2 linked regions of the Homo sapiens genome follow. The protein of the gene in region 2 interacts with the protein of the main gene of each other region in a biochemical or structural test. Each region holds a gene or a part of one and is shown on either strand. Other genes may lie near its edges.

Evidence for each region.
Region 1: the proteins of RTF1 (region 2) and TCEA1 form a complex in vitro, tested with the Homo sapiens proteins (one study listed by BioGRID).

Annotation. Positions count from the first base shown.
Region 1 is NC_000008.11:53,972,771-53,988,991, forward strand, and holds part of TCEA1 (transcription elongation factor A protein 1), read right to left. Parts: intron 15,490-16,221; coding exon 15,344-15,489; intron 14,256-15,343; coding exon 14,199-14,255; intron 11,748-14,198; coding exon 11,593-11,747; intron 6,402-11,592; coding exon 6,255-6,401; intron 5,928-6,254; exon of another isoform or gene 5,753-5,927; intron 1-5,752. Other genes in the region: LYPLA1-TCEA1 readthrough, read right to left, coding at 6,255-6,401, 11,593-11,747, 14,199-14,255, 15,344-15,489.
Region 2 is NC_000015.10:41,463,775-41,479,995, reverse strand, and holds part of RTF1 (RNA polymerase-associated protein RTF1 homolog), read right to left. Parts: intron 15,226-16,221; coding exon 15,111-15,225; intron 13,856-15,110; coding exon 13,744-13,855; intron 9,740-13,743; coding exon 9,604-9,739; intron 8,825-9,603; coding exon 8,647-8,824; intron 5,377-8,646; coding exon 5,294-5,376; intron 4,472-5,293; coding exon 4,384-4,471; intron 4,285-4,383; coding exon 4,177-4,284; intron 3,551-4,176; coding exon 3,473-3,550; intron 2,832-3,472; coding exon 2,710-2,831; intron 2,539-2,709; coding exon 2,481-2,538; intron 1,449-2,480; coding exon 1,371-1,448; intron 894-1,370; coding exon 798-893; intron 570-797; exon of another isoform or gene 505-569; intron 1-504. UniProt on the Homo sapiens protein: Component of the PAF1 complex (PAF1C) which has multiple functions during transcription by RNA polymerase II and is implicated in regulation of development and maintenance of embryonic stem cell pluripotency.

The sequences.
Region 1 (16,221 bases), on a different chromosome or scaffold from region 2:
GTAGACTGTGATTCTCCTGAAACAGCCAGTAAAATTTATGAGGATTGTGGTGGCCTGGAATTTGAAAGTAGTTGTTCTTTCACAGATCTAAGGTTTATACCAGATGATACTACTTTTGATGATGAGCCGAAGGACGTAGCCTCAGAGGTGTATTTAACAGCATATAAACTAAATATATATCATATCTGCTGCAATGGGAACATCAATGGTGGAAATCACTTGGGATGAGACTGAACATGAAAGAATTACAACACTCAACAGGAAGCTTAAAAGGAAGAGCTTTTGGACATGGATTTTCAAGACTACTTAGCTTCCTCTAGCGAAAATGAAGAGGAGATAGAAGAGGAGCTACAAGGTGATGATGAAGTCAATGTAGAAGAAGATGGGAAAACAAAAGTCAGAAGGACGATGAAGAACAAATCACTAAATATAGGCAACTTTTGCAGGTTATTCAAGAAAAAGAAAAGAAAGACAAAGAAAATGATATGGAAATGGAAACGAAGTGGGTTCCAGGTCTTAAAGAAAGTGCAAAGAGATGGTCAAGAACAAATTGAAAGGAAAGGATAAACTGACCCCTTGGGAACAATTTTTAAAGAAGAAAGAAAAAAAGACAAAAAGAAAAAGAAGACTCTTGCTAAAGAGGCCAGTGAAAATTAACTTCCCTCTGATGTTGATATGAATGACCAGTACTTTGCTAAAGAAGTTTAAAAAAATAGGTATAAAGAAAAAAGTGAACAAAATCTGCAAAAGATGGCACATCTCCAGAAGAAGAAACCAAAATAGAAAGATGAAAGGCTGAAATGGCTTTCCTTACTGGATGAGGAGGAGGAAAGTAAGAAACACTTCAATTACAACAAGATTGTGGAGCACCAGAACCTGAGCAAAAAGAAGAAAAAGAAGAAAAAGCAGCTCATGAAAAAAAAGAAATTATTAGAGGATGACTTTGAGGTAAATGTTAGCAATGCATGGTTTCAAGCAATGTACACTTCCCACTTGTTCAATGTGCATCCCTCAGATCCCAATTTCAAGAAAACAAAAGCTGTGGAAAAAACCCTTGAGGAGAAAGCCTGGCAAAGAGAACAGAAAAAACAAGAACTTACTCAGGCAATAAAGAAAAAAGAGGGCCAGGCACAGTGGCTCACGCCTATAATCCCAGCACTTTGGGAGGCCAAGATGGGTGGATCACCTGAGGTCAGGAGTTCGAGACCAGCCTGGCCAACATGGTGAAACCCTGTCTCTACTAAAAATACAAGAAAATTAGCCAGGCATGGTGGCTGGCACCTGTAATCCCAGCTACTCGGGAGGCTGAGGCAGGAGAATCATTTGAACCAGGGAGGTGGGGGTTTCGGTGAAGTCCACTGATCCTGCCTTGTCAATGTTTATTAAATCTGTAAAAACCAAAACAGAGCAGTTTCAAGCAAGAAAAAAAAAGTCAAATAACTGGATGTTATTTCTTTTTGAATTGAAAACATCCCCTAAAATATACAGAAATAGTAGGAGAAATATTTATTGGGAACAAAGCTACCTTTCAAGAATATGAATAAAATCTCATTCTAAACATAGTAAAATTTTTCTTCATAAATAGTTGTTCTTAATTGTGGATGACTGACAAATTTGTATTGTATATTCCTATAGATTAGTCATAATTAAATCAAATTACCTGAATTGTAGGGTTTATAAAATGTTTATATTTTATGAAGTTCAATTCCAACTAGTGGAAAGTTACTCTAGCTTTCTGGTTTTTTTGGGGGGTAGTGGGGGTGGGGGTGGGGGGGGGACGGAGTTTCATTCTTGTCACCCAGGCTGGAGTGCAATGGCATGATCTCAGCTCACTGCAACCTCCACTTCCTGGGTTCAAGCAATTCTCCTGCCTCAGCCTCCTAAGTAGCTAGGATTACAGGCAAGCGCCAACACGCCTGCCTAATTTTTTGTATTTTTAGTAGAGATGGGGGTTTCACCATGTTGGCCAGGCTGTTCTCAAGCTCCTGACCTCAGGTGATCCGCCTGCCTCAGCCTCCCAAAGTGTTGGGATTCCAGATGTGAGCCACCGCACCCAGCCTACTCCAGCTTTTTAAAAGGCTGTTTACAATTCTATGTAAAAATAGAGCAGTATCTACGCTTGTTTGTTTAAAGGTTAGGGATAATTTGAAATATATATATATATAATACATTAATTTCTCTGGGAGCAGGAGGCAGATTTAAATAGCTATTAAAATAATTTATTTTTCTAGCCATAAAAGATGGAAGAACTTTTTGTTGTTTATCATGTTAAGTTTGTTTATGAAATTAATTTGTAAATAAAAGAGCAAAATATTTTTATTATTTTTGTATAGCACTGATTTATTTTATACATCTCAAACTATTCTCTGGAAAAATTTTAAAAGAGAGGGAAATGCTTACATTATGGTAGCTAAGTTAAAAGAAGAGCATAAAATAGTTTTTACAGTACTTAATTCCAACTATACACAGAAAAAAATTCACTAAATATTGCAAACAACAAAATACTGGTAATTGTTCTCTTTGGAAGGCAGCTTAATGGATGACTTAAATTTATTACTCATATTTTTCTGTATTTTCCTAATTTTTCTATAAGCCATTACTACTGCAATTCCACTGTTGGGTACATAACCAAAAGAAAGGAAGTAGAGTCTCAAAGAGGTATCTGTACACTTAAGTTCACAGTAGCATTATTCACAATAGCTAAAAAGTAGAAGGAACCCAAGTGTCCATCAACAGATGAATATACAAAATGTGGTATGAACATACAATGGAATATTATCCAGCCGTAAAAAGTAGGGAAAGTCTGACATATATCACAACACAGATAAACCTTGCAGATATTATGCTAAGTGAAATAGGCCAGTCACAATAAGACAAACATTCTATGATTCTACTTATATGAAGTACTTGGTATAGTCAAATTCTGAGAGTCAGAGAGCAGAATGGTGGTTGTTGGGCTGGGGAGAGGGGAATGGGGAGTTACTGTTTAATGGGTAAAGAGTTTCACTTTTGCAAGAGGAAAAGTGTTCCGGAGACTGGATGTACAGCACTGTGAATGCTCTACTACTGAACAGTACACTTAAAAATAACTGGTTAAGTTGGGAAATTTTAGGTTACATATAAATTCTACCACAACTACTTTTTTTAAAACTTAAAAAGAGAACTCAGCAAGAAAAAAAGCTAATATGATTTTTAAAAACTTAATCTATACAAGATTATAAATTTCTGAAGTTCTAAACTGAAGAGAATTACCAGAATCAAAGGTCTCAAAAACAGAAAGGTTATTTCTCTGAATGAAGATGACAAAGCATTATTAAAGTTAAATGTTATTCTTAAGTTGTGGCAAGAACCTAAATACTAATAATGTTGCAGTTAGAATAAGGTATACTGAAATTCCGTAAGAGATGATAAAATACCAGTTTATCACCACTTCAAAGATCAAAGGTTCATGACACCGGTAAACTATTAACATGCCTTCCAACTCAAAGGCCCAAAGGAAGACAAAGCAGCACCATCCTCAGAACAGCAGCGTTCTACTCACTTAAGGCCTTCAGATGAAAATGGTTTGAAAACTCCTGCTATACTTTATATATACTTAATTCTGATATCCAGGGCCCCAAAAGTGGACATGAATCTTTTGCTCTCTGGGAAAAATTTTAATCTCCTCTTGGGTACGTAGTAATCAAGAGTTACACTTATTTCTTTTACATCTGTTATTTCCATGAGAACTTTGAGAGTTTTCTATCTGAAGCGAACACTTTGTGATTCTAAGAAAATCATACTGGCTCCAACTTTAGGCTGGGTTCCTTTTGCTAAAAGAAACAAACTTGGTATTTATGTTTTTTGTCTTAGCTATTTATAATTTGATTATGTAAGTATATCACTTTTACTTTTTAAAGAAGTTTTAACTTTTAAATAACTATTTATACTTAATACTTTCTAATAGATGGCATTTTTTAGGGTGCAATTTTTATTGTTAAGATATTTCTACCTGATTAAAAGAAAATAGAGCAATTCAAACTCAGAATTTTCTGAGACCACTTTTATCAGTGTTGATGCATTTTAGTAACAATCAGTAGTAAAACTGCTACAAAATGAAACATGGAAATACACAACTGTGACTTAATGAGGCTTCAAACAGGTAAAGGACTTCAGACTAGTTAAATTAAGTATATCTGAAAATAGAGATTACATGTCTGTAAACAGTAGAAAAGAGGCAGAAGCTCATATAACATTTTCCATATGTGTTTAGAAAAAGGAAAACAAAGGCTGGGCGTGGTGGCTCACGCCTGTAATCCCAGCACTTTGGGAGGCTGAGACAGGCAGATCACGAGGTCAGGAGATCGAGACCACCCTGGCTAACACAGTGAAACCCCGTCTCTACTAAAAATACAAAAAAATTAGCCAGGCGTTGTGGTGGGTGCCTGTAGTCCCAGCTACTCGGGAGGCTGAGGCAGGAGAACGGCGTGAACCCGGGAGGCGGAGTTTGCAGTGAGCTGAGATGGCGCCACTGCACTCCAGCCTGGGCAATAGAGTGAGACTCTGTCTCAAAGAAAAAGGAAAACAAAAATATTTGCATGTATACACATAAAATACCTAAGTTTCACAACAAACTAGTAACCTTGCTTTACTTTCAGGGAGGGAGAACGAGGTGGCCACAGGCAAAAGTGGGAATGGAATTTCCTACTCATAAACTTTTGTACTTTTTCAATTTTTAACCACAAAAATAACTACCAACAAAATTTGTTTTAAGTAAAGGCCCCTTTAGAGTTTAGTGATGCTATTTTTTAAGTGCTTAATGTTCTATCGGTGAAAAAATCAATTCCCCAAATCTACTATCTGAAACATAGTAAGTTGTCCCTTAAGGAGACAATCTTGAGTTTACAGCAGATAACATAGCACAAAAACCTATTTGGCAAATGAAATTAAGACAGTGATAAAAAAAATTTTCACATATGCACATGCAACCAAAATAACTATAACACGGTTTTCAGCTGTTAAAGAATAAAAAGGCTAGTCATATCGTACATAAATGTAAGTTATCAATATTACAAAAAGGAACAAATTATCCAGAAGACAGTTAAGCCTAAAGTACTCATAAGCCATGTGGAGGAGCGTGAAGAACTTTCCTTAAATTATATAGTCCTGCAAAATAAAAAGGATTATGGCCAATTTACCTAGTAACCAATACAATTGCTTATGAACTTTTAAAAAAGAACATGGTCATTTTATTAATTCTTATATTTTATAAATTTTGACATAGCTTTCATAGTAACTATTTCTGTGAAAGTATAAATATATCAACTTGGTTTTAGTTAACTAGAATCAGTATTAAGAAAGCATTCTGACAAGGCACAGAGGCTCATGCCTGTATTCCCAGTACTTCGGGAGGCCAAGGTGAGAGGATCATTCGAGTCTGGAAATTTGGGATCAGCCTGGACAATGCAGCAAGACCCCATCTCCGCAAAAAAATAATAATAATTTTTTTTAAAAAAAATCATTCTTACACTTAAGAAAGAAATCTTATCTCCTCTTGAACTAGTCCCCAGTTATCCATGGTTTTGCTTTCCATGGTTTCAGTTATCTATGGTCTGAAAATATTAAATGAAAAATTCCAGAAATAAACAATTCATCAGTTTTAAACTGTACATTGTTCTGAGTAGCATGAAGACAGCCTGTACCATCCTACTCTGTCTCACTTGGAATACAGATCATCCCTTTGTCCAGTGTGTGTCACTGTAATGCTACCTACCCATTAGTCATCCACATCATCAGGGCTCGATGAGGCAGGACCACCTGAAGCAGATGAGCCTCCTTCTGATGGATCATCAGAAGGTCAACAGCAGCCTAACACTTAGTCACAATGCCTACATCATTCACTTCGCCTCATCTCATCAAATGAACAGGGGTGAGTACAGTGCAAGACACTGTGAGAGACAGAAAGACTACACTCATATTACTTTCATAACAGTATCTTGTTATAATTATTCTATTTGATTAAGTTATTATTGTTAATCTCTTCCTATGCCTAATTTATAAATAAAACTTATCAGTACATATGTATCGGAAAAAACGTGGTATACATAGGGTTAGGTACTATCCGTGGTTTCAGGCATCCACTCAGGGTCTTAGAACATATCCCTCCATGGATAAGTGAGGGACTATCATACTGGTAATTATCTTTGCTATTTATTTTAAAACAGGAGTTGCAAGCATTTTTATATAAAAATAAGAATCTATAAACAATCACAAACCTGTGTGTAAGTGCAATTCTTCTTTTTACATTTGCCACATGTGAACAAGTCAGTCTGGGTCCCACCAGTCTTGGCCATCTGATGCTCTCTGATGGCTTCTTTGGTCAAGTTTTTCCGCATCTCTTTCAGCTCATCACTAGCCATTTCCTATGAGGTAGGGGGCAATACCACTCAGTTATAGACACCTTCTATATATATCCTGAATGCTTTTATGCTCAATTAGCCTAATAATAATAAAACCACATATCAACCTTTAAGGTTTTAAAAGCATTAAATTAATATTTTTCCTCAAAGGCTTTGTAAGAGTTTAATTCCTTTTAAAAATTTCTTCAAATACTTAAAAGTTTACATGTGAAAATTGGATTTAAGTACTGTTTAAAGGCTACTAAAACCACCTTTGCAAAGATTATGACAGTGAGAGAAATTGAACATGGCTGACTCCATCTTGCTTCTAGTGTCACAGGCTGGCTGTCTTCCCTCTTTCCTGGGCACAGGCCAAGTTAACCATGGAAGGAATTTAGTTTAACTTTGATGCAAAGATGGTAACAGTCCTTCCCTAAAATCGATCCCTCCTTGTTCAGAGCCTGAGATCACCTTTGTTAAGACTAATGAAATGCCAGAGGATTAGGATTATGGGACAGGCCTGAACTCTGCTAAAATGTAGACATAGTTTCTATAATCCCTCACTGCTCAGGAGTCATGTGGCCAGAGGACACAAAGTGTGTGACTTCCCCAATTGCTCCTATAGGTAACATTATTATTGTAGAACCTGAGATTGGTTTTTTGAGATGTTTTTCAGACTGACCCCTCCAGAACTCAGGCCCCTCACCCAGAGGTACAGAAGGACCAGTTCCCACATCCCTATGATTGCATCCCCAATCAATCAGCAGCACCCATTCCCTAGTCACCTAGGAATAGTTACCACCAAACTATTCTTGTAAAACCCTAACCTCCAAGTCTTCAGGGAGACTAATGTGAGTAATAACTTCGTCTCCTGCATGGCCAGCCTTGCATTAATAAAACTCTTTCTTAACCGCAATAGCGCAGTCTCAGTGAATTGGTTTTGTCTGTGTAGTGGGCGGGAAGAAGCTGTCAGGTGATTACACTATGAACAATGTAAACTTACAACGAGTACCTCTAGTATCCAGATTATAGTTTCTAATAGCATTGCCTACACCCCACTCCCAAAAGAAGTCAGGGATCTCTGGAGGAATGCCTGATTCCAGTTTTGAGGCAAGAAATGTATAGAATATGCCAGGGTCATCTTCTCACGCCAGTTTTTACCAGCTACAGTCATACTTTGCTTTATCTTGCTCTGCGCTATTGTGCTTCATTTTATTGCACTTTGCAGTTACTGCATTTTTTACAAATTGAAGGTCTGCAGCAATGCTGTGTTGAGCAAATCTATTGGCGCTATTTTTCCAAAAGCATGTGCTCATTTCATGTCTCTGTGTCACATCTTGGTAATTCTCACAATATTCCAAGCATTTTCACTATTATTATATCTGTTAGGTAATCTGTGATCAGTAATTTCTTATGTTACTATCACTGTTTTAGGGGCACCACTAACTTTGACCACATAGGACAGTAAGCTTGACAAATGCTGTGTGTGTTCCGACTGCTCCACTCTTTCCCCGTCTCTCTTCCTCTCCTTGGGCCTCCCTACTCCCTGAGACACAACAATATTGAAATCAGGCCAATTAATAACCCTACAATGGCCTCTAAGTATTCAAGGACAAGGAAGAGTCAACATGTCTCACTTTAAATCAAAACCTAGAAATAAGACTAAGTTTAGTGAGGAAGGCATATGGAAAGCTGGGATAAGCCAAAAGCTAGGTCTCTTACACCAGTTAGCCAAATTGTGAATGCAAAGGAAAATTTCTTGATGGAAATTAAAAGTGCTACTCCAGTGAACACATGAATAATGATCAAAATAGCCTTATTGCCGATATGAAAACGTTTTAGTGGCCTAGACAGAAGATCAAACCAACCACAACATTCCCTTAAGCCAAAGCCTAATCCAGAAAAAGGCCTTAACTCTTTAATGCTGAGAGAGATGAGGAAGCTGCCGAAGAAAAGTCAAGAGGCTACCAGAAGCTGGTTCATGAGGTTTAAGGAAAGAAGCTGTCTCCATAACATAGTACAAAATGCAAGGTGAAGCAGCAAGTGCTGATGGAGAAGCTACGGCAAGTTATCCAAAAGATCTAGCTAAGATCATTGATGAAGGTAGCTATTCTAAACAAAGATTTTCAATGTTGATGAATATTGGAAGAGGGTGACATCTAGGACTTTCACAGCTAAAGAGAAGAAGTCAACGCCTGCCTTCAAAGCCTCAAAGGACTTTGAAGGACTCTCTTGTTAGGGGCTAAAGCATCTGGTGACTTCAAGTTGAAGCCAATGCTCATTTACCATTTGGAAAATCTTACAGCCCTTAAGAATTATGCTACCTCTACTCTGTCTGTGTTCTATAAATGAAACAACAAAGCCTGGATGACAGCACATCTATTTACAGCATGATTTACTGAATATTTTAACCCCACTATTGAGACCTACTGCTCAGAAAAAAGATTTCTTTCAAAATATTCCTACTCATTGACAATGCACTTAGTCATCAATATGCCTAGTCATCCAATAGCTCTGATGGAGACATACAAGGAGATTAATGTTATTTTCATGCCTGCTAACAACAACATTGATTCTGCAGTTCATGAATCAAGGAGTAATTCTGACTTTTTTTTTTTTTTTTGAGACAGGATTTCACTCTGTCACCCACGCTGGAGCGCAGTGGTGCAATCTCAGCTTACTGAAACCTCCACCTCTTGGCCTAAAGTGATCCTCCCACCTCAGCCTCCTGAGTAGCTGGGATTACAGGAACGCACCACACCATGCCCAGCTAAGTTTTCTTTTTTTTTTTTTTTTTTGTAGAGATGGGAACTTGCTATGTTGCCCGGGCTAGTCTCCACCTCCTGGACTCAAGTGATCTGCTCATCTCGGCTTCCCAAACTGCTTTGATTACAGGTGTGGCCACCATGCCCAACTGACTTTCAAGTTTTATTATTTCAGAAATACTTTTTGCAAGGCTGTAGCTTCTACAAAAAGTAATTCTTCAGATAGATCTGAATAAAGTAAACTGAAAACCTTTTGGAAAGGATTAACCATCCTAGATGCCATTAGGAACATTAGTGATTCATTGAGAAGAGGTCAATATGTCAACATTTAGAGGAGTTTGAAAAAAGTTGACTCCAATCATCATGGATGACTTTGAGGGGTTTGACTTCACCAGAGAAAGTAACCACAGAGGGGCCAGGCACGGTGGCTCACGCCTGTAATCCCAGAACTTTGGAAGGCCGAGGCGGGTGGATCACCTGAGGTCAGGAGTTTGAGACCAGCCTGCCCAACATGGTGAAACCCTGTCTCTACTAAAAGTACAAAAATTAGCTGGGCTTGGTGGCGGGCGCCTGTAATCCCAGCTACTCAGGAGACTAAGGCAGGAGAATCGCTTGAACCCAGGAGGCAGAGGTTGCAGTGAGCAGAGATCACACCACTGCACTCCAGCCTGGGCGACAACAGTGAAACTCCATTCCCCACCAAAAAAAAAAAAAAAAAAAAAAAATGAAAGTAACCACAGATGTAATGGAAAAAGCATGAGAAGGAAGATTAGAAGTAGAGCTTCAAGATGTGACTGAGTTGCTTCAATCTCATAATAAAAGCTGAATAGATGAGATGCTTCTTGTGGAGGAGCAAAAAGTAATTTCCTGAGATGGAACCTATTCCTGGTGAAGATGCTGTGAACATTGTTGAAATGACAGCAAAGGATTTAGAATAATATGTCAACTTAGTTGATAAGGCAGCAGCAGCATTTGACAGCACTGACTCCAATTCTGAAAGAACATCTACTATGGATAAATGCTATTAAACAGCATCACAGGCTACCAAGAAATATTTCATGAATATTTGCTCCATCAATGCATCAAATCTCACTGTTGTCTTATTTTACAAAATTACCACAGCCACCTCAACCTTCAATAACCACTACCCTAATCAGTCAGCAGCCGTCAACATCCAGGCAATTCCCTTTTCCAGAAAAATAGTATGACTTGCTGAAGACTCAGATGATCATGAGCAATTTTTAGCAAGGTGTACATTGTTTAGCAAGGTATAAGGTGTACACTGTTTTCTTAGATGTAATGCTATTGTACATTTAGTAGATTATAGTATAAGCATAACTTTTATATGTACTGGAAAGTCAAAAAATTTGTGTGACTCGTGTGTCACTTTATTGCAGTAGTCCAATCCAAACTTGCAATGTATCTGAGGTATGTTTGTGTACAGAAGAAAAATTCACTCTCTTCAATGTTCACTAAAACGTTGAAATTGTAGATACAATATAGCTAATATCTATGAACAACCATGTCTATAAATAGCAAGCTATAAATTTCATTTTTTCCATAATTCCCTGTAAAAATTTAAGAAATAATCAATAGGATGGGCACAGTGGCTCACGCCTGTGATCCCAGCAGGAGATTACAGGAGCAGGAGAATCTGAAGCAGGAGAATCGCTTGAACCCGGGAGGCAGAGGTTGCAGTGAGCCAAGACTATGCCATTGCATCCCAGCCCAGGCAACAAGGGCAAAATTTCGTATCAAAAAAAAAAAAGAAATAATCAATATGATGTGACCAATTTTATAGTGTTTAACCACAAAAAAGGTTAGCACTTACAAAGTGTACTTGCAATTAAGAGATTCAACTCTCTGGTTCTACACTAATTCATAAAAAGTAAAAAACACTTGGTGGCCAGCCGTGGTGGCTCACACCTGTAATTCCAACACTTTGGGAGGCCAAGGCGGACAGATCATCTGGAGGTTGGGAGTTCGAGACCAGCCTGACCAACATGAAGAAACCCTGTCTCTACTAAAAATACAAAAATTAGCTGGGTGTGGTGGTGCACGCCTGTAATCCCATCTACTTGGGAGGCTGAGGCAGGAGAATCGCTTGAACCCAGGAGGGGGAGGTTGCGGTGGGCCAAGATCGTGCCATTGCACTCCAGCCTGGTCAACAAAAGCAAAACTCTGTCTCGAAAGAAAAAAAAGTAAAACACGTTTGTTTTTAGAAAATAATTTAGTGTAATCACATTAAAAGCATGGAAACAGTTGGAGGGGGAGCAAAGTACTGACAAAAGACACAATCACCTTAAGTATTTGTCTAGTATATAAATATATCAGAATAACGGAAATTTATTACATATGCAATATTTATATAGTAGTCTATGATGATAATAGGCTTTACACTTCACAACACAGAATCACATTATAGAAACCTCAGATTCACACATACTCACCTCTGCTGTCATTCTAGCAAATAAGTCAGGAGGAATATTCCCACAGAGGACATTTTTCCTTAAATTTGGATTTTTTGCATCTTTAAGATTTGATATCCTACTTCGTACTCTATTTTTGTATTTCATGTCTGTATTCCTTATTTCTTGATATATAGGTACCAGGCCGTTAAGGAAAAAAGGCAAAATTACAAAAGTAAGATCACTTTTTTTTCCTGTTCTGCCAAAATAAGAATTCCTGAGGCCAGGCACGGTGGCTCATGCCTGTAATCCCAGCACTTTGGGAGGCTGAGGCTGGTGGATCACGAGGTCAGGAGATCGAGACCATCCCGGCTAACATGATGAAACCCCGTCTCTATTAAAAACACAAAAAATTAACCAGGCATGGTGGCAGGTGCCTGCAGTCCCAGCTACTCGGGAGGCTGAGGCAGGACAACCACTTGACCTGGGAGGCAGAGGTTGCAGCGAGCTGAGATCAGGTCACTACACTCCAGCCTGGGCGACAGAGGGACACTCCATCTTAAAAAAAAAAACAAACCTGAAATTTCTAAGCAATTCACGACAACTGTTTCCAATTTAGAGTATGTTAAAAACAAGGTACTATATCTAATTCCTTGAGCTGTAATTGGCGAATAATAGTGATATTACTTTTACACTGTAAAGTAGTTGTTTGTTTTGAAGGTGGGTAGAAGGAGTCTCACTCTGTCACCCAGGCTGGACCTCAGCTCACTGCAACCTCCACCTCCCGGGTTCAAGCAGTTCTCCTACCTCAGCCTCCCGAGTAGCTGCTGCGATTATAAGCGCCTGCCACCATGCCCGGCTAATTTTTGTATTTTTAGTAGAGACGGGGTTTCACCATGTTGGCCAGGCTGGTCTCAAACTCCTGACCTCAGGTGATCCACCCGTCTCGGCCTCTCAAAGTGCTGGGATTATAGGCGTGAGCCACCGCGCCCGGCCTAGTCATGTTTTATTTCCTAAATGTTTAGTGCCAGCAGTATGCAAGTCAACAGGGTTTCAAAAAGTAACTCAAGTACTCAACATGAGAAAGCACATGTTTGAAAAGGAGCTTGAACTTATTCAAGCTTTACTTGCCCAAATCCGAATTCTACTAAGGATCCTAAAGTCTCTCTGGTCACACAGTTCCCACAGGGTCTCTGAGAAGAGACCATTCAGCATGGCCGTGAGGGTTCCTCTCCTCCCCCAGCTCAGCAGGAGCTACCTCAGCAGGCTCTTCTTCTCTGCAGAAGAGGCCACTGCCAAAGCTGAACCCTGGAACAGCTCCCTTCCTAATAAGGCCATTTCCTCAACCAGGACAATCTCATGTTACACAGCCACCTAGATGCTCCCTGCCCCTACTCACACACAGTACCCCTCTCCTGGAGCCCTTTCCCGGTGCTTAGCAAGAACACGCTTCCTCTGGGATAATGAGCTCAGGTGACTGTGTGTGCTCTGAGGTCCCCCTAACTGAGAAGTCTTCACATTTATATGTGTGTGCTTTCCATGCCCTTTTGCACAACTTAAATTCAGACACTACAGTCTCAATCTACAAGGCAGAAAAATTTAAATGTCATAAATGCCATCAATACTGTACTTTCCTTTTCAATAACAGGAAAAACAAGACAAATAAAATGACATAGATGTCCCTCTCCTTTCCAAGAAAACAATACAATCAAGATAAAAAGTGAAGAATAAGACTTTGAATTCTATACCAACAGGAAAAATTAAGCTAGCAGATTACTTAAAACAATTATGACCACTTGAAGTTGTGTGACACCAAGAGACCTTTCTGGCTGGTAGCAGAAGTAATAGATGTCACTCCTCAGCAGTAGTTTTGAAAGCCAGTATGCAATTTATCCATTTTACCTTCTGCCACATCACCACTCACAATGGCCAATCCACCTGCCTGGTCCTAGAGGACAATGACCCAAAGCCCAGAGTCCTCAGCTAGCCTGTGATGAACATATAGGACAAATACATTCCTGTTTGTCCAGTTTAATCTGTGAAAGAAACCTCTGTGGTGTTAAGCCACTGAAATTTCAAGGTTGTCACCATAATATAACACAGCCTGTCCTGCCAAGTACATAAAGTCAATCTTGGACACTCATGTTTTGCTAGGAAAGCGAAATTCTTTAGGTTTTCAAATTGCCAACGAGATACACCCAATGTTCTCATGTATTTTGTAATCTCTTCTAATTATGTTATCGGTTTGCCTTTCTTGTTCTCAATCATATTTTCACTCTCCTGCTATCTGAAGCAATTTTACTAGGGATTTATATGTTTCAGTTTCCAAAGAGCCAGGTCCTTTTAAACTTCGCTGTTTCTAGTTCATTCAGCTTCAACATGAAGGAAAAAGTCTAGCGTGGTGGTCAAGGTCATGGGCTTGGAGCCAAATTCCCTACAATGGAATCCCAGCCCTGTCAGTGTCAGGCTGTGTGATCTAGAACAATGACCAATCCTCTTCTGCTTCTGTTTTCTCTCTGTAAAATGGGATGAGAGCACCTAATTCATTGGAAGGACTACTGCATGTAAAACCGTGCCTGGCATTTGCATATGTTCAATAAATATTACTTATTAAAAAAAACAATTATGAATATACACACAAAGGATATCTTCTTCAATTTGAGATCCTAATTCTTCCTCATCAGCTCCAATTGCAATGTAGTCATCTAAAAATAGGCATAAAGAATTGTCAAATTATTGTAACAGATTAAAAGAAAATTCTAATACCAGGTAATTAAACTGCATTCCTATTTCTTAAACCCCATTTGCCTGACATAAAGAAACCGTTCAGTTTAGTTCGTTAGAATCTGATCACTTCACTGCCCGCTAGACTTCTTTTCTGGGCTTCACCTGATACCCACAGTGCTCCTGCACTGATGATTCCTGATCCCTCAGGCACAGGAAGTAACTGATCTAGCAGGCAATTCATTTTTCGTAACTCCATAAATTCTGGCTGCTCCAGCAGAGTAGAGAAAGTTACAGAAAGAACTGTCTAGTCTCCTGTGACTCAGGCTTCAATGCAAAGAAATCATTTAGTTAATCTGCCAATCACATATACAGACACACTCAGAAGACTGCTATACAAATATGCAAGAGGATAGAAGGAAATAAACTAGGCAGAAAAAATAAAAGAGACAGTCAGGAAATCAAAGTAGAAAGGGCAGAGTAAGGAGAAAATCAGGTCAAACTAGCCATGGTGCAGAATGAGAGAAAAGAAAAAGGATGAATTCGTATAAAATAACAAATATTCCTGTATATAAAACTTTAAATCCAAATGTTACATGTTAAGACTGGATACTTTCAAATTAAATTAAGCTCCCATATATAAATCAAGACTCACCCTCCCTTTTTCTAACTAGAAAATGGAAAACATTCATACTATATGTCATACTATTCAACAATTCAGTATTGTTAACTCTCAATATAAGATCAGGGTATGTAGTTTGCAGATTAAATTGTGGGGAAACAAAAGATTTGTGAGAAAAAAGTGTACATTACTATGAAATCAGGGAAAACATCCATGTATTAGAGGGAATCTATTTCTTACAATTACATAGTAATAAGCAAATGCCCCAGTATTCCTCCTCCTCTCCCCCTTAACAGACCCGTATCAGCAACAACTTCTCCCCAAGCTAAGCAGCAGTGGGTGGGCTATCCACAGGGTAACACTCATCAAACAGCAATATGGAGTTGGAGATGGCAGTGGTTGTGGGTGGTGACCAAAGGACTGAGAAATAACATGCACTGGACTTACCCCCTGTTCGAAGAGCTGCAGCAAGCATCTCCCTACACTTCAACCGCACAGAATCAGAAGTGCTTGGTGCCCGAGGAAAGGATGAAACATAAGTATCTCGAGCATTTGTCTCATCCTTTCTGTTGCTTACATTGCCGCTGGAAGTACTGAAATACGCACAAACACCCCAAAAAGAAATCAAGAACAATCCTTTCAAAGTAACAATACTACTATCATGCTGTAAAAACAAAATTTGGGGTCTAAATAAATGACACAGTATCTCAGTGACCTTTATGTGATGGAAAAAAAATTGCCTGCATACAGATTAAAAAGAAGTTAAAAATTTTACAATTTAGTAAAGTGACAAGTATGCCTTTTTTTTGAACTAAACATTTTATCTTTGATTCTCATTTTAAATATTAAGCAATATTTTTAATAGAGAAAATACCCATTATAGCTCAGTACAATAAATGAAAAGCAATGATCTTGGTATAAGGAGAGGGATGAAGGGATGGGACCAGAGAATGACAGCTTTCTTTTTTGAGACGGAGTCTTGCTCTGTCACCCAGGCTGGAGGGCAATGGTGCAATCTCGGCTCACTGCAAGCTCCACCTCCCAGGTTCACACCAGAGAATGACAGCTTTCAACCAAAACTAGAGATAGAGAGAGAGAATGCTTGAAAAACTCTGTTTCACTGGGCATGGTGGCTCACAGCTGTAATCCCAGCACTTTGGGAGGCCAAGAGAGGCAGATCACTTGAGGCCAGTAGAGTTCAAATCCAGCCTGGGCAAAATGGTGAAACCCCGTCTCTATTAAAAATACAAAAATTAGCTGGGCGTGGTGGCACACGCCTGTAATCCCAGCTACTTGGGAGGCTGAGGCAGGAAAATCGCTTGAAC
Region 2 (16,221 bases):
TGAGTGTAGAAAGGGTGGGCTTAAGCAACGGGTCACTTCCTGACCTAAGATTTCAGAAATCCTGAGACCAGTTAGACTACAACAGGAAAAGACTTAACTTGGACAGAAAACTGCTTTTTTTTTTTTTTTTTGAGGTGGGAGTCTCACTCTTGTCACCTAGGCTGGAGTACAACGGTGCAATCTTGGCTCACTGCAACCTCCCCCTCCCAGGTTCACGCGATTTTCCTGCCTCAGCCTCCTCAGTAGCTGGAGTTATCGGAACCCGCCACCATGCCCAGCTATTTTTTTTCTATTTTTAGTAGAGACGGGGTTCTACCATGTTGGCCAGGCTGGTCTCGAACTCCTGACCTCAGGTGATCCGCCCACCTCCGCCTCCCAAAGTGCTGGGATTACAGGCATGAGCCACTGCGCCCAGCAAGAAAACTGCTTTTAAATGTGCCATTTTCAACAAGCTTTCACTTTTACAATGTCTGATCTTTGTATGTTATCTCTCCTCCTGTGAAGCTGGCAGGGTATACAGTAGTACCCTCATTTTACACAGCAGAAAAGGGGATGCTGAGGGCTGGAAGCCAGCTGCTGAAGGACATAGTCAAGGCCCTAGGCAAGTAGTGGTGTCAGGTTTGGAATTAAGGTTGTCTGTTGATTATATCTGTAAATAACTGGGATGGAGAAGGGACTCCAAGAGGGACTCCCTGTTCCTCAAGGTGGAAAAATCAAGCCCAAACTAGACAAGGTACTTGTTCGGTATCTCAGCCAGCAGCCTCACTCAGCAGGCAACAGGGTGGTACCACACTTGCCTTGCTCATTTCCTTTGGAGCATCTGGTAACACTCCAGAACCGTATTTTGCATTCAGCTGGGCCAAGATGGCAGCTTGAACAGCTGGGTCTCTGGACTGAGAGAGAAAATAAGTTGTTTTAGAGATTGCTTGACACTCACAGAGTCCTACTGCCAGATTCTTTCCCACCTACCAAACTAACATCACAAGCACCACAGCCGACCCATCAGCAGCTAGTGGGGTTTTCCTCAAAGCAGCAAAAAAAAAAAAAAAAAAGGCAATTACAAGCTTGAAAGCCAAGCCCAGCCCAGCCAGGCCCTAGCTAAGGGACACATTACTAATGTCTGCTGCACTGTAAACCCACCCTGATACAGGAGGATCAGTCACTAGGTTTTTATAAATCCATGCCACGTTTTCACTACCGATATGTCCTATAGCAAGATAAAAAAGGAAGTATCCAGACCCAAGAGCTTCAGACAAGCAAATCCCAGCTAAGAAAACATTATTTTTAACTTCATTATTAATTTCCTAATGGAATTCATTTTGTGTCCTAGAATCTAGGTCCTGACTAAAATGTCCTCTTTCAGCACTCACATTAGAAACGATGGTAGGCTTGCACTGCCGCCGAGTAAAGGGATCCATCTGTTGGTTTTTCATGTTGTGACTTTCAGCCTGAAACAGAAAGCATGCACCACAGAACTGCACCTCCAGCCCCTCCTCTCATTCACCATAAGCTCACAGGCAAATAAGTCTTTGCACGGGACTGAAAAAAAAAAAAGCTATTATCCTTTTCCTTTTTTTTTTTTTTTAATTTTTTTTGAGATGGAGTCTCGCCCTGTCGCCTAGGCTGAAGTGCAGTGACGCAATCTCAGCTCATTGCATCTGCTGCCTCTCAGGTTCAAGTGATTCTCCTGCCTCAGCCTCTCCAGCAGCTGGGACTATAGGTGCAAGCCACCAAACCCAGCTAATTTTTGTATTTTTAGTAGAGACAGGGTTTCGCCATGTTGGCCAGGCTGCTCTCAAACTCCTGACCTCAGGTGATCCACCCACCTCAGCCTCCCAAAGTGCTGGGATTACAGGCGTGAGCCACCATGCCCGGCTAATTTTTTTTATTTTTTAAATGGATTCTCGCTCTCTTGCCCAGGCTAAAGTGCAGTGGCACGACAGCTCACTGCAATCTCCACATCCCAGGTTCAAGTGATTCTCGTGCCTCAGCCTCCCAAGTAGCTGGGATTACAGGCGTGCACCACCATGTCCGGCTCATTTTTGTATTTTTAGGAGAGACAGGGTTTTGTCATGCTGGCCAGGCTGGTTTCAAACTCCTGACCCCAGGTGATCCACCCGCCTCGGCCTCCCAAAGTGCTGGGATTACAGGCGTGAGACACCGCGCCCGGCATATTATCCTTTTCCCTTCAAGAATACCAGAGTAGATATGGGGGAAACAACCAAGAAACAGAAATTGAGAAAAAACAAATACCTGTGGAGTAGAATCTAAGGGTGGGAAGAGGTAGGACAGGGCAGAAGACTGCTGCTTTTCATTATGAATAAATTATATCGATGTACGTGGACATACAGAGAGAGTGTGTATACGTTAAGTGCCTACGTTATTTCAATAATTAAAAAATAAACTTAGGCAAGATGTAGAAAAGATGTCATGGTTTATTAATTAACTTTGTTTTAGTGATTCAGATAAAGTTTTCTTACCACAAGGGCCTTCTCAGACTCTACAATGTTCCACTCCCGGTTCCGCTGGTTGATGTAACTGTGGGGTAAGAGGGATGAGTCAGTGGCTGTGAAACAAGGGAGGGAGGGAACCACTGAGCCCTGAACTCAGATATCTATGGGGTCAGTGCAGCACAGAGTGTACAGGCCACAGGCTTGCCTGATAATTTTGGCCAAGGTCTGCGGGCCAAAAATAGGCTCCATAACACACCTGATAGCGGATATGTTCTTGGTCCGCTGGCGGTCCAGGGCCTCTGCCCGTTCCTCCAGCTCATTCAGTTGATCTTGGATTTGTTTGGCCTTGTCCTGATCCCCCAGGTCCTCAGCCATGGCCTACACATAGAGAGATGTGTGAGTTCGTTCTTGGCTACATACAACTGACTCCATATCAAGTATCCCCTTACTTCCAGCACAGGCAAAGATATCTCATGTGGTGAGCAAAGGACAGGAGATGTGGAAGAATACTGTAGAAGTACTTTACAAATACAAGATATAATTTATATTATAGTAGTGCACAGTACAGTGGGGAACACCTTCCCATACAGCTACCTGGCTGTGGGTCCCTGGTGGCAGTAGAACCCCAGGCCTCACAGGGTGGCTAAACCACCATAACAAGGCCCACCCCAACCCAGTGTGAAGAATGGAAAATCACCAGCCACAGGTGGCCTTGACAGTGTCATCTGTCTGTTCAGACTCAGTGTTAAATACCACCCCAGGGTCTATTTTATTACAAAGGAAACTGAAGTGACTAGAAAGTAAGAAGACTGGCACACACGCAGAAGATGAGTTTGAATTTAGGGAATGGAAAATGGCCAAGGAACGTTGCCCAGGTGCCAAGAACACACTGTGTTGCTTATAATCGAGCCCAGAATTTTCTCCCAATCCTACCACCACTAACTTGGCAGAGGATGAACAAGTTTGATTTCCACATCTCCTTACAGGATGAGGAAAGAGGCTCGAGTACAACTCCTTACCTTTTCCTTCAGTAGCTGAGTCTTCTTCATAGCGTAGTTGGGTGGAGCTTTTCTGAACCTTTCTTTCTCTTTTACAATCTGTACCAGAGAGGAGATACCAGCAGTGAGGTATTCCTAAGCTATTTTTGTAGACAGGCTAAGTGAGCCCATTTTGGATGCAAACAGCTAGTTACAAAGGGGCTGCTCTTCCTACAGCAGTGTCATGCCCCAGAGAGAGAGAGAGCGGGTTCATTCCAAGGGATACTATGCTGCTTCCTGGGTCACGGAGATTCTTCTGGGACAGGCTGAAGGAACATGCACCAAGAAACAGCAGCCCAAGGGCCTGGTAGTGTAAGGCTAGCCACTGTCCAAGAGAACAGAGATCAAATAATTTTACCAAGATGTTTTAGAAAAGGAAAACTCTTGAAGGATCAAGCCTAGCAGAATACAGACCCCTGAACCCTAAATACACTTTAGTGTATGTAGCCTCATTTGTTGTCTCATCTGAACTCTGAATACACTTCAGTCTATGTTAGCCTCATCCGGACATGAGAATGTATAGAAAAAAGCTTGATGAACTATAAATAATCAGGTAGTAATATTAGTATTCCCTCATTTTCATGCATAGCTAAAAATGTCAAGATATAGGGAAATAAAAGAGAATCATGTTCTCTCAACACTGGTTCTTGATGAACCTCCGGGTTCTGGGGCACCAGTTTTCTTACCTCTTCAATGTCCTGATCATTGAATTTATAATTAAGAGCTTCTTTAATAGATAATTCCTTTTTATTGATTTCATCTAGAGTGGGCAACTGCATGCCAGCAGAGAACATCTGGATCAAAAACACGATACGAGATTATTAGTAAGGGATTTTGGAAAGATATTTTCTCAACGTGCACGAACAACTGCTAGGTAATCTCTAGCCACGTACCGCTTCTTTCCACTTCATAAACTCACTTTCGGTGAATTCTTGGTTTGAGACAAACTCTAAACGGAACACGCGTTGGTCATTGCCATGCCTACATAAAAGAGAGACAGCATCTCCAAGAAATGTGCATGTTGACTGTAGTACAAGCAAAGCAACCTTACCAGACTATGTACCACCTATATATACCTATTGCAGTGGTTCTCAATCCTAGCTACCCTATAAAATCATCCCAGGCTGTTTTAATGAGCTGCCAAGATTGAGATCCCAAAGCTAGCACTGGAAACCAAATGGGCTTGGTCAGTGCTTCAAAAGTCAATTTACAATAAAATCCATTACAGTCAACATCAACAATATGCAACAGAGCCTGGGACAGGGTTACATGCCTGTGGTCACAGCTCCTCAGGAGACTGAGGTGGGAGGATCACCTGAGCCCAGGAGTTCCAAGCTGCAGTGCACTATGATGGCACCTAGAGCAGTGCCTGGCACACTGTACATTCGGTAAATATTTGCTGAGTGAATGACACTTTCATTTTACTGAAGAGGAAATGAAGTCCATAAAAATGATCTTTCTTGTCACAGATGAGGTTATGACATAGAGCCAGAACCAGAAGCAAGCCTCTTGGACATGCTTGCCAAGGAAATGCCAGCGAGGCTCTGGGAGGGTCTCTCATAACCACACATTTCCTTTCTCTGTGTCCTACCCCTTCATATATTTGGTTCCCTCTAGAGGAGAGAATATCCTACCTTCCCTATAGACAAAGATGGAATACAAGTCTCCCTCCAAGTGTACCTTGTGGGGATTGCATACATAGCGTTCATGGTAACAAGGAACATCACACAGAGAGAACAGCAGCCCCCAAAGCCAGTGCCTGTTTGAAGTGGAAGCAGAAGCTACCCCAGAAGTGCCTCCTACCGTAGTTGCAGCCCTTTGTTTGTTCTGGTGCCACCTAGTTGGTAAACTTTGGCAGTTTCCACAACACCCGTAATCTCAGCGACCTAAGTGAGAGGACAGAGACGCCAGTCAAAACCAGACTCTTCCGGAGCTTTCCACAACACTCTTCCTTTGCGTCTCTCTACCTGAACGCAGACAACTGATAGAGTGCTGAGTAGAGTCCACAGCTGCCAGGGGTTCTGAGAAAGGTTTCTCAGGTTTAGAATCCAGATGGCCAAGCACAGGGAGCCTTGTGCCCAGGAGGAGAAAGTGCCAGCAGAAGAGGAGCCCGATGGGGCCCACTGGAAGCTTTTCCTCCAACTAATTCTAACTTACAAGGGATGTATTTGGGATTTCACCAGTTGATTTTTATCAACCAAATGTGAAGACCATGTAGGTCAGTTTCTGTTGCCAAGCATTTCAGGATATGGCATGGCTGCAGGTCCTCATACAAGGGGATAACACACATAAAAACCAGACAAGAATAAAACAAAACAAAAACAATCCAGGCTGGGCGCCGAGGTTCAGGCCTGTAATTCCAGCACTTTGGGAGGCTGAGGTAGGAGGATTACTTGAAGCCAGGAATTTGAGACCAACCTCAGCAACACAGAGAGACCCAGTCTCTCTTTTTTTTTGTTTTTTGTTTTTGAGACAAAGTCTTGCTCTGTCGCCCAGGCTGGAGTGCAATGGCATGATTTTGGCTCACTGCAACCTCTGCCTCCCTGGTTCAAGTGATTCTCCTGCCTCAGCCGCCCAAGTAGCCGGGACTACAGGCACATGCCACCACGCCAAGCTAATTTTTTGTATTTTTAGTAGAGAGGGGTTTCACCATGTTAGCCAGGATGGTCTCGATCTCCTGACCTCGTGATCCACCTGCCTCCCAAAGTACTGGGATTACAGGCGTGAGCCACTGCGCCCAGCCGAGACCCAGTCTCTACAAAAAAGAAAAAAAAAATTAGTTGGGCATAGTGGTGTGCACCTACAGTCCTAGCTACTCAAGAGGCTGTTGTAGGAGGATCGTTTGAGTCCAGGAGTTCAAGGTTGCAATGAGCTCTGATCACACCGCTGCATGCTAGCCTGGGCAACAGGGCGAGATCCTATCTCAAACAGGCTGGGCACAGTGTCTCATACCTGCAAACCTAGCACTTTCGAAAACCGAGGCAGGAAGATGGCTTGAGTCCAGGAGTTCCGGATTAGCCTGGGCAACATGGTTAAGACACTGTCTCAAAAAAAAAAAAAAAACCCAACACCTGGGCCGGGCGTGGTGGCTCACACCTGTAATCCCAGCATTTTGGGAGGCCAAGGAAGGCAGATCACGAAGTCAGGAGATCGAGACCATCCTGGCTAACAAGGTGAAACCCCGTCTCTACTAAAAATACAAAAAATTAGCTGGCATGGTGGTGGGCGCCTGTAGTCCCAGCTACTCGGGAGGCTGAGGCAGGAGAATGGCGTGAACCCAGGAGTGGGAGCTTGCAGTAAGCCAAGATCGCGCCACTGCACTCCAGCCTGGATGACAGGGCGAGACTCCGTCTCAAAAAAACAAAACAAAACAAAACAAAAAACCAACACCAAGCACTTTAGGAGGCTGAGGCCAGAACATCACTTGAGGCCCGGAGTTTGAGACCAGCATAAGAAACAGAGAGAGGCTGTTGCTACAAAAATTTTTTTTTAAATCCCAAAGTGAGGCCGGGTGCGGTGGCTCACGCCTGTAATCCCAGCACTTTGGGAGGCCGAGGCGGGCGGATCACGAGGTTAGGAGATCAAGACCATCCTGGCTAACACGGTGAAACCCCATCTCCACTAAAAATACAAAAAATTAACCAGGCGTGGTTGCGGGCGCCTGTAGTCCCAGCTACTGGGGAGGCTGAGACAGGAGAATGGCGTGAACCTGGGAGCCAGAGTTTGCAGTGAGCCGAGATCGTGCCACTGAACTCCAGCCTGGGCCACATAGCGAGACTCCGTCTAAAAAAAAAAAAAAAGAGACTCAGTCTAAAAAAAAATCAGCCAGGCGTGGTGGCGCATGCCTGTAGTCCCAGCTACTTGGAGGCTGAGGCATGAGAATCGCTTGAACCCAGGAGGCAGAGGCTGCAGTGAGCCAAGAGCGTGCCACTGCACTCCAGCCTGGGCAACGGGGTAAGACTCTGTCTCCAAAAATAAAAAACAAAAAATTAAAAATAAGGCCGGGCTCAGTGGCTCATGTCAATAATCCCAGCACTTTGGGAGGCCGAGACAGGTGGATCACCTGAGGTCAGGAGTTCAAGACCAGCCTGGCCAACATGGTGAAACCCCATCTCTACTAAAAATACAAACAGTAGCCAGGCACGGTGGCGGGTGCCTGTAACACTAGCTACTCGGGAGGCTGAGGCAGGGGAATTACTTGAACCCAGGAGGCGGAGGTTGCAGTGAGCCAAGATCGTGCCATTGCACTCCAGCCTGGGCGACAAAAGCGAAACTCTGTCTGAAAAAAAAAAACAACAAATAAATAAAAATAAAAATAGGCCAGGTGCGGTGGCTCACGCCAGCACTTTGGGAGGCTGAGGCAGGTGGATCACAAGGTCAAGAGTTCAAGACCAGCCTCGCCAACATGGTGAAACCCCGTCTCTACTAAAAATACAAAAATTAGCCAGGTGTGGTGGCATGCGCCTGTAGTCCCAGCTACTTGGGAGGCTGAGGCGGGAGAATCACTTGAACCCGGGAGGCGGAGGTTGCAGTGAGCCAAGACCACGCCATTGCACTCCAGCCTGGGTGACAGAATGAGACTCCGTCTCAAAAAATAAAAATAAAAAAATAATAATAATGGTAAAATAAAATATAAATAAATAAATAAATAAATCCCAAAGTGTTGGGATTACAGGAGTAAGCCACTGTGCCCAGTCCACCTAGACCACAGAAGCAGTGCTGGAACCTACATAATAACCTGTATTAGTCTGGAGGGTTTTTTTTAACCTCAATACAATTCCCTGGTGTAGAAGTCACTTGGTATGCAACATGAAACTTTTCATTCATTGGTTTTTCAAATGAACAAATCTTTTAGATTATGTAACTCCCAATGAACACTTCATAGATGCCTCCCTTCTCCCTTTTATACTGAAGGGAGAATAGAGAAAATTATTCTACATCCAAATCTTCCAGGCCCTTGGGCTCCAAGTCCTCCTCTTGGCAACAAGTCATGAAGGATTCCTGGGCACCTCACTGCTCTATGGGGATCCCACTTGGAGTCTACTTTCCATCAAATGCTGAGAGAAGAGTGATCGATTTTTTCAGTAGCTCCTGCCCTCAGTTGAGACTAATTATACTGAAAGCATGGACAATTGTCCAAGGGAAGAAATACCAACCCGGTAAACTGGTTTGCTGTTGTGGTTTCCGATGCCAATCCGCACAAAACATCCTGTGACAGTTTTAGCAAAGAAGGGCATGTGACACCAGCGTTCTAGCTTATGCCGTGATAATCGAACCCGATTCAATTCTTCAGGTAAGGAAACTGGTTGGGATTTGGGAGGGATCTCTTCTTTCCTAAGAGGAACAAAGGGGCACTGGAAAAAATGTTCATCATAAAAACAGAACAAGACAGAAAAATAATATCAACTCCTCAAAACTTAACCAAAGTACATGTGACTGGCCTAGGAGGAGAAGTAAATGAAGCACCAGCAAAGACTTGTAATAGGATCCTGTTCCTGACCAGTAGTATGAGCTGTTTCAAATGAGGCTGCCATCTTAGATAACCCATCAGAGTAAGAAAATGAATGAGCCTGTAATCCCAGCACTTTGGGAGGCCGAGGCGGGCGGATCACGAGGTCAGGAGATCGAGACCATCCCGGCTAAAACAGTGAAACCCTGTCTCTATTAAAAATACAAAAAATTAGCCGGGCGTAGTGGCGGGCGCCTATAGTCCCAGCTACTTGGGAGGCTGAGGCAAGAGAATGGCGTGAACCCGGGAGGCGGAGCTTGCAGTGAGCCGAGATCCTGCCACTGCACTCCAGCCTGGGCGACAGAGCGAGACTCCGTCTCAAAAAAAAAAAAAAAAAAAAAAAAAAGAAAATGAATGAAAGCTCCAGGCCAATCTGAGAATGACACGAAGTCAGTTCCTACCTTCCAGGCCCAGGTGAAATGTCTAAGCGTACAGGCTAGCAGCCAAATGAATGGGCTGACGTGCTGGGGAACTCAGTTCAGCAAACCAAAGGTAACCATGTCAGAGTTAGTGGCCCAACCAGGGAGATTTTGGAAACGATACCAAGCTCTTCCTCAAAAACCCACCTATCCTGCCTACTAGACCAAAATGTACAAGAGCTTACTCCTCTTCTTCATCAGACGATGATGTTCGTGATGAGCGGTCTGACTTTTCACTGGATTTGTCATCCTCTTCCTCCTCTTCATCATCAGAGTAGACCTCACTGGTTTTTAATGGCTGTTTTTTGGCAAGGAGCTCAGCTAGAAAGAAAGAAGAGATGTTTACCTAGGTTTTCTCAACAAGAAAATGAATTCATCCTTGAAAAAGAACTGGAAATGGAAGAGGACTCAAATACACAGCTCCGTCCTCTCTAGACTGGATTGTGCTAACTTGGGGTATATACAGAAATGAGTTAAAACACAGAGTTAAAATTATTCAGGTGCCAAATGTCAGGCCCCAGCAGATGAAAAAAGGGCTGGAAGATTGATACTAGGTGGGCAGAAAGGGTCACCAACACTACTGACAGTTCTCTTTTATGGCACTCAAGACACTTGACTATGGGGAGGAAAGAGGGGGAAAGACTCATGATGACTTCAGAAGCTTCTGAGGAAAATTTAAAATAGGAGAGTGGCTAAATCACCACTGGTACATCTACCAATGAACTACTATGCAGCTATAAAAAAGGAACGTGGGGACGGGTGCGGTGGCTTACGCCTGTAATCTCAGCACTTTGGGAGGCAGAGGCAGGTGGATCACTTGAGGTCAGGAGTTCGAGACCAGCTTGGTCAACATGGTGAAACTCTGTCTCTACTAAAATACAAAAATTAGCCAGGCATTGTGGCCGGCACCTGTTATCCCAGCTACTTGGGAGGCTGAGGCAGGAGAATCGCTTGAACCCGGGAGGCGGAGGTTGCAGTGAGCCAAGACTGTATACCACTGCACTCCAGCCTGGGCAACAGAGCGAGACTCCATCTCAAAAAAAAAAAAAGGAACGTGGCCAGGCATGGTGACTCATGCCTGTAATCCCAGCACTTTGGGAGGTCGAGGTGGGTAGATCACTTGAGCTCAGGGGTTTGGGACCAGCCTGGGCAACATGGTGAATCTGCATCTCTACCAAAAATACAAAAAACAAACCAGGAGTGGTGGCTAAAAAAAAAAGAGAGAGAAAACTGTGTATAATATGCTACCATTAATCTAAGATGGCAGGTTAATCTGTGTACTTACGATTTAAAAAGAAAAAAGAATAATATAAAAAAATTTTAGGCTGGGAGTGTTGGCTCATGCACTTTGGGAGGCCAAGGCAAGGCGGATCACTTAAGGTCAGGAGTTCAAGACCACCCTGGCCAACATGGCTAAACCCCATCTCTACTAAAAATACAAAACAAAATTAGGTGGTGGTGCACGCATGTAGTCTCAGCTACTCAAGAGGCTGAGGTGGGAGAATCGCTTGAACCCGGGAGGTGAAGGTTGCAATGAGCCGAGATCGCGCCACTGCACTCCAGACTGAGTAACAGAGAGAGATCCTGTCTCAAAAAAGAGAGAGAGAAAAAGATGGATGGAAGGAAGGAAAAATAACTGCAATGGATTAAAACACATAAAGCACGTTAAAAATGATGAGTTCACAAGGATATTCAAAATAAATAAAACCCATCAGTCATCTTTGGAAGTTGCTAAAAACTATCTCTCTCTCTCTCTTTAAAATATTGCAGAAACAGGGTCTCACTATGTTGCCCAGGCTGGTCTTGAATTACACATGTGAGCCACTGTACCTTGCCAGGAACTATCTCATTCTTTCAAAAACTGGTAAACGAAAGGAAAATTAATCAAGCATTTATCTTGCCTTTCCTGTTCAAAATGTGCCTGGGGGGTAACTAAATAGCTGATTAGAAGTTTCTCTTTAGGCCGGGTGCGGTGGCTCACACCTGTAATCCCAGCACTTTGGGAGGCCGAGGCGGGCGGATCACAAGGTCAGGAGATCAAGACCATCCTGGCTAACATGGTGAAACCCCTTCTCTACTAAAAATACAAAAAATTAGCTGGGCGTGGTGGCAGGTGCCTGTAGTCCCAGCTACTCAGGAGGCTGAGGCAGGAGAATGGTGTGAACCCAGGAGGCGGAGCTTGCAGTGAGCCGAGATCGCGCCACTGCACTCCAACCTGGGCGACAGAGCGAGACTCCGTCTCAAAAAAAAAAGGTTTCTCTTTATAGAAGCAGGCTAGATAATGAATGAGGAAAGAATGACAGATTCGAAATATCACCATTTTGCAACTCCTAATGAATTAAATTATCTAGGTAATGACCATCAGTGGCTACTAGGACAGAACACGTTATTATTTCTTTTTCTTTTTTTTTGAGACAGAGTCTCACTCTTGTTGCCCAGGCTGGAGTGCAATGGTAGGATCTTGGCTCACTGCAACCTCCACCTCCCGGGTTCAAGTGATTTTCAGTGCCTCAGCCCCACAAGTAGCTGGGATTACAGGCATGTGCTACCACGCCTGACTAATTTTTGTACTTTTAGTAGAGACGGGATTTCACTCTGTTGGCCAGGCTGGTCTCCAACTCCAGACCTCACGTGATCTGCCTGCTCTGACCTCACAAAGTGCTGGGATTACAGGTGTGAGCCACCGTGCCTGGCCTGGCTAATTTTATTATTTTTAGTAGAGATGGGCTTGCACCATGTTGGCCAGGCCGGTCTTGAACTCCTGGCCTCAAGCAATCCTCCAGCCTCAGCCTCCCGAAGTGCTGGGATTACAAGCGTGAGCCACTACACTCAGCCCCACATTATCTTTTGTTGTTTTTTTTTTAAGATTGAGTCTCACTCTGTTGTCCAGGCTGGAGCGCAGTGGCGGAATCTCAGCTCACTGCAACCTCCGTCTCCCGGGTTCAAGGGATTCTCCTGCCTCAGCCTCCTGAGGAGCTGGGATTACAGGCATGCACAACCATGGCCAGCTAATTTTTGTATTTTTTGTAGAGATGGGGTTTCACCATGTTTGCCAGGCTGGTCTCAAGCTCCTGACCTCAGGTGATCCGCCCACCTTGGCCTCCCAAAGTGCTAGGATTACAATTGTGAGGCACCACGACCGGCCCCCACAGTATCCTTTCTAATTCTTCACCCATCTCTATACCCATGTCCTTTGCTATATGCCTTAGTCATTCTTCCCGGCCCCATAGTGACACTATGCCAATTCCAAGTCTAGGCCCTAAGAGGCATGTGTGTCTTTGCTTGCCCCTTTTATACTTCTGTCATCACCATATAAAAGTGCTCGGGGTTTACTGGCCCAGGGAGGAAGAGAGAGGTAGAACAGACCTGGCTACCACCTATAGCTTGGAGATAATTCCAGCTGAACTCATGCCATCAGGAGGGTGAATTGCAGTTGAACTTCAGATGCATGAGCAGAACAGGGGTTAGTTTGTTACTTCACATTATTGTGGTAAGAGCTAACTGACAGGATTGTTAACATCACAAACTGAGAGACAGTCAGATATCATGTGTCTCCTGATGGAAATACATACCACTACCTAAAAATCAGCCTTCCCCAAGAACAAGCAACAATGACAACAACAGAACAAACCCAAATCTGACCAATTCTGTAGCTCTAACTAACCATTTACAGGAAACCCAAGGGACCAGAAACACATTCAACAACAAAAACGAGATGTAGTCAGCAATGTGAGAAACCAGAAGACAAATGACCCAGTTCCTTCAGCAAATAACGCTGCAAGGCAGGGCAAAGAGATGGGGAAGAAAACATACAGATTAAATGCCTTAAGGGACGTATTAACAGATCACAATGTATGGACTTTAAGATCCTGATTCAAGTGGTCTTGTTTTTTAAATTACAAAACAAATAGAAATGTTTTTAAAATCTTGTTTTTTAAATTACAAAACAAATAGAAAAATTTGAACACTGACTAGATATTTGACAAAGAGTTCATTGTTATTTCTAGGTGTAATAATGGTATTATAGTTAGGTTTAAAACAAAAGTACTTATCTTTTAGAGGAACATACTGAAATATTTATGGTTAAAATATAATAATGCTGGTATTTGCTTTAAAATAATCTGATGAAAGGATTATAGATTTAACAAGACTGGCCAAGAGCTGACTGCTGTGGCTGGATGATGGGTTTGTGGATGTTTATACTATTCTGGGTATGTGCTGGAATTTTATATGAGAAAGATATAACAAGAGGGCAAAATGAAAATGGACACCAGGAAGTCAAATCATATAAAGACACAAGTAGCCATTATATTTCCCTCGCTTACCTGTTCTGTTCTTTCGTTTTTCTCGCTCTGCTTTTAGCTCCTCCATGGCTTGAGATTTCTTGTCTAGTTTCTCATCCCGCTTGGAACGCCGTTCCTTGTTGTGGGATGTTACCTAGGAAGGGAAGGATATATAGAATGGCCCTTTTTACCAACAGCTGATAAGATTCTCTAAACCTACTTAATGCATTTAGTCCTCCAACATCAATCTATATGGGCTGCAAAAACTTAGAGCTTTTATGTAAGGGGAGAGAGCATCCTCTTGTGGACAAAGAGGATAGCGCAGTAAAGTAAGCCCTGTCTAAAATGCCTATTCCAAGTTCAAGAATTATCCGAATAAACTCTTTCTGGAAGAACACACTACAACACAGCTAATGTTGGGATTACAGGCATAAGCCACTACACTCAGCCCCACATTATCTTTTTTTGTTGTTTTTCTGAGATGGAGTCTCATTTATGATAAATACAGAGATTATTTTCCCAGCTATATTTATACCAAGTAAAGGATGATATACATCTAAGTAAACATCATAAGCATCTGGCTACCTAGGACAGGTTGTTTACCAACTTTTCCTTAAGGGATGGTCACTCACTAGTGGGCTGCTTTTTTTTTTTAAAACAGAGCCTCGCTCTTCTGCCCAGGCTGGAGGGCCATGGCATGATCTCAGCTCACTGCAACCTCCGCTTCTGAGGTTCAAGCAATTCTTGTGCCTCAGCCCCCCGAGTAGCTGGGATTAAAGGCATAAGCCACCACGCCAGGCTAATTTTTGTATTTTTAGTAGAGACAGGATTTCGCCACGTTGGCCAGGCTGGTCTCAAACTCCTGGCCTTGAGTGATCTGTCTGCCTCGGCCTCTCAAAGTGCTGGGATTACACATGTGAGTCACTGCAGTTGAGGGCTGCTTTTTAAATGCAGACTTCAGTGAAAGCCGGGCACGGTAGCATATGCCTGTAGTCTCAGCAACTCAGGAGGACTGCTTGAGACTAGGAGTTTGAGGCTTCAGTGTGTTATGACTGTGCCAGTGAATAGCCACTGTATTCTAGCCCGGGCAACATAATGAGACCAGGGAAAGGGAAGAGGAAGGGAAGGAGGAAGGGAAGGGGGAAGGAGGAAGGGAGGGGAAGAAAAGGGAAAAAGAAAGAAGAAAGAAAAAAGAAAAGGAAAAAGGAAAGCAAAGGAAAAAGTGCTAAGGATTTAACAGCACAGCTAATGGTGATATGTCCAGAGATTAATGAAACCATGTCACAAGTCTTATAAACTTAGGCTGATTAATATAAATCCACCTTTTACACACACACACACACACACACACACACACACACTCAAAACAGGTTTATTCTTTGGACAATGAGGAACACTGAATCTCCTACCTGAGATTCTTGAATCTGTGTCAGTTTTTTCTTTTCTTGCTCCTCTTCTTGCTTTTTCTTCTTTTCTTTCTTTTCTTTCTTTTTGGCTGTTTTTAGTTTTTTCTTGATTTCAAATCTGGTTAAAAGATATTTGGTTTTTAAGTAGCAATGAAATGTATATAAAAACTGATTTCTATTAGATAGGAGAAAGGAACTAAGGGAAAGGAGCTAATAGATATTTTGGCTTTCCTGCAAGAAACTCTGGTGTACCTTTTAAGTACATTAAAAATATTTAATATGTTAATTACAACAAAATATAAAATATTTGATAGCATTAAGTTGGAATATGTTTAAAATGAGAGACTACGGGCCAGGCACAGGGGCTCACACCTGTAATCCCAGCATTTTGGGAGGCCGAGGCGGGGGGATCAAGAGATCGAGACCATCCTGGCCAACATGGTGAAACCCCGTCTCTACTAAAAATACAAAAATTAGCTGGGCATGGTGGCGCACACTTGTAGTCCCAGCTACTTGGGAGGCTGAGGCAGGAGAATCGCTTTAATCCGGGAGGGAGGTTGCAATGAGCCAAGATCGCGCCACTGCACTCCAGCCTAGCGACAGAGCAAGAATCCGTTTCAAAAAAAAAAAAAGAGAGAGAAAGAGAACATATATAGGGTATTGCTGTACTCATCTGCGCCACTCTAGCCTGGGCGACAGAGTGAGATTCCATCTCAAAAAATAAACAAACAAACAAACAGGCCCGGTGCAGTGGCTCACACCTGTAATCCCAGCACTTTGGGAAACCAAGGTGGACGGATCACGAGGTCAGGAGATTGAGACCATCCTGGCCAAAATGGTGAAACCCCATCTCCACTAAAAATACAAAAATTAGCTGGGCATGGTGGCATGTGCCTGTAATCCCAGCTACTCGGGAGGCTGAGGCAGAAGAATTGCTTGAACCCAGGAGTCGGAGGTTGCAGTGAGCCAAGATCACGCCACTGCACTCCAGCCTGGCGACAGAGTGAGACTCCGTCTTGAAAACAAACAACAAACAAACAACAACAAAAAACACACAATGAAAGACCATTTCACACCCACCAGGATAGCTATTATCACAAAAAGGGAGGCCAGG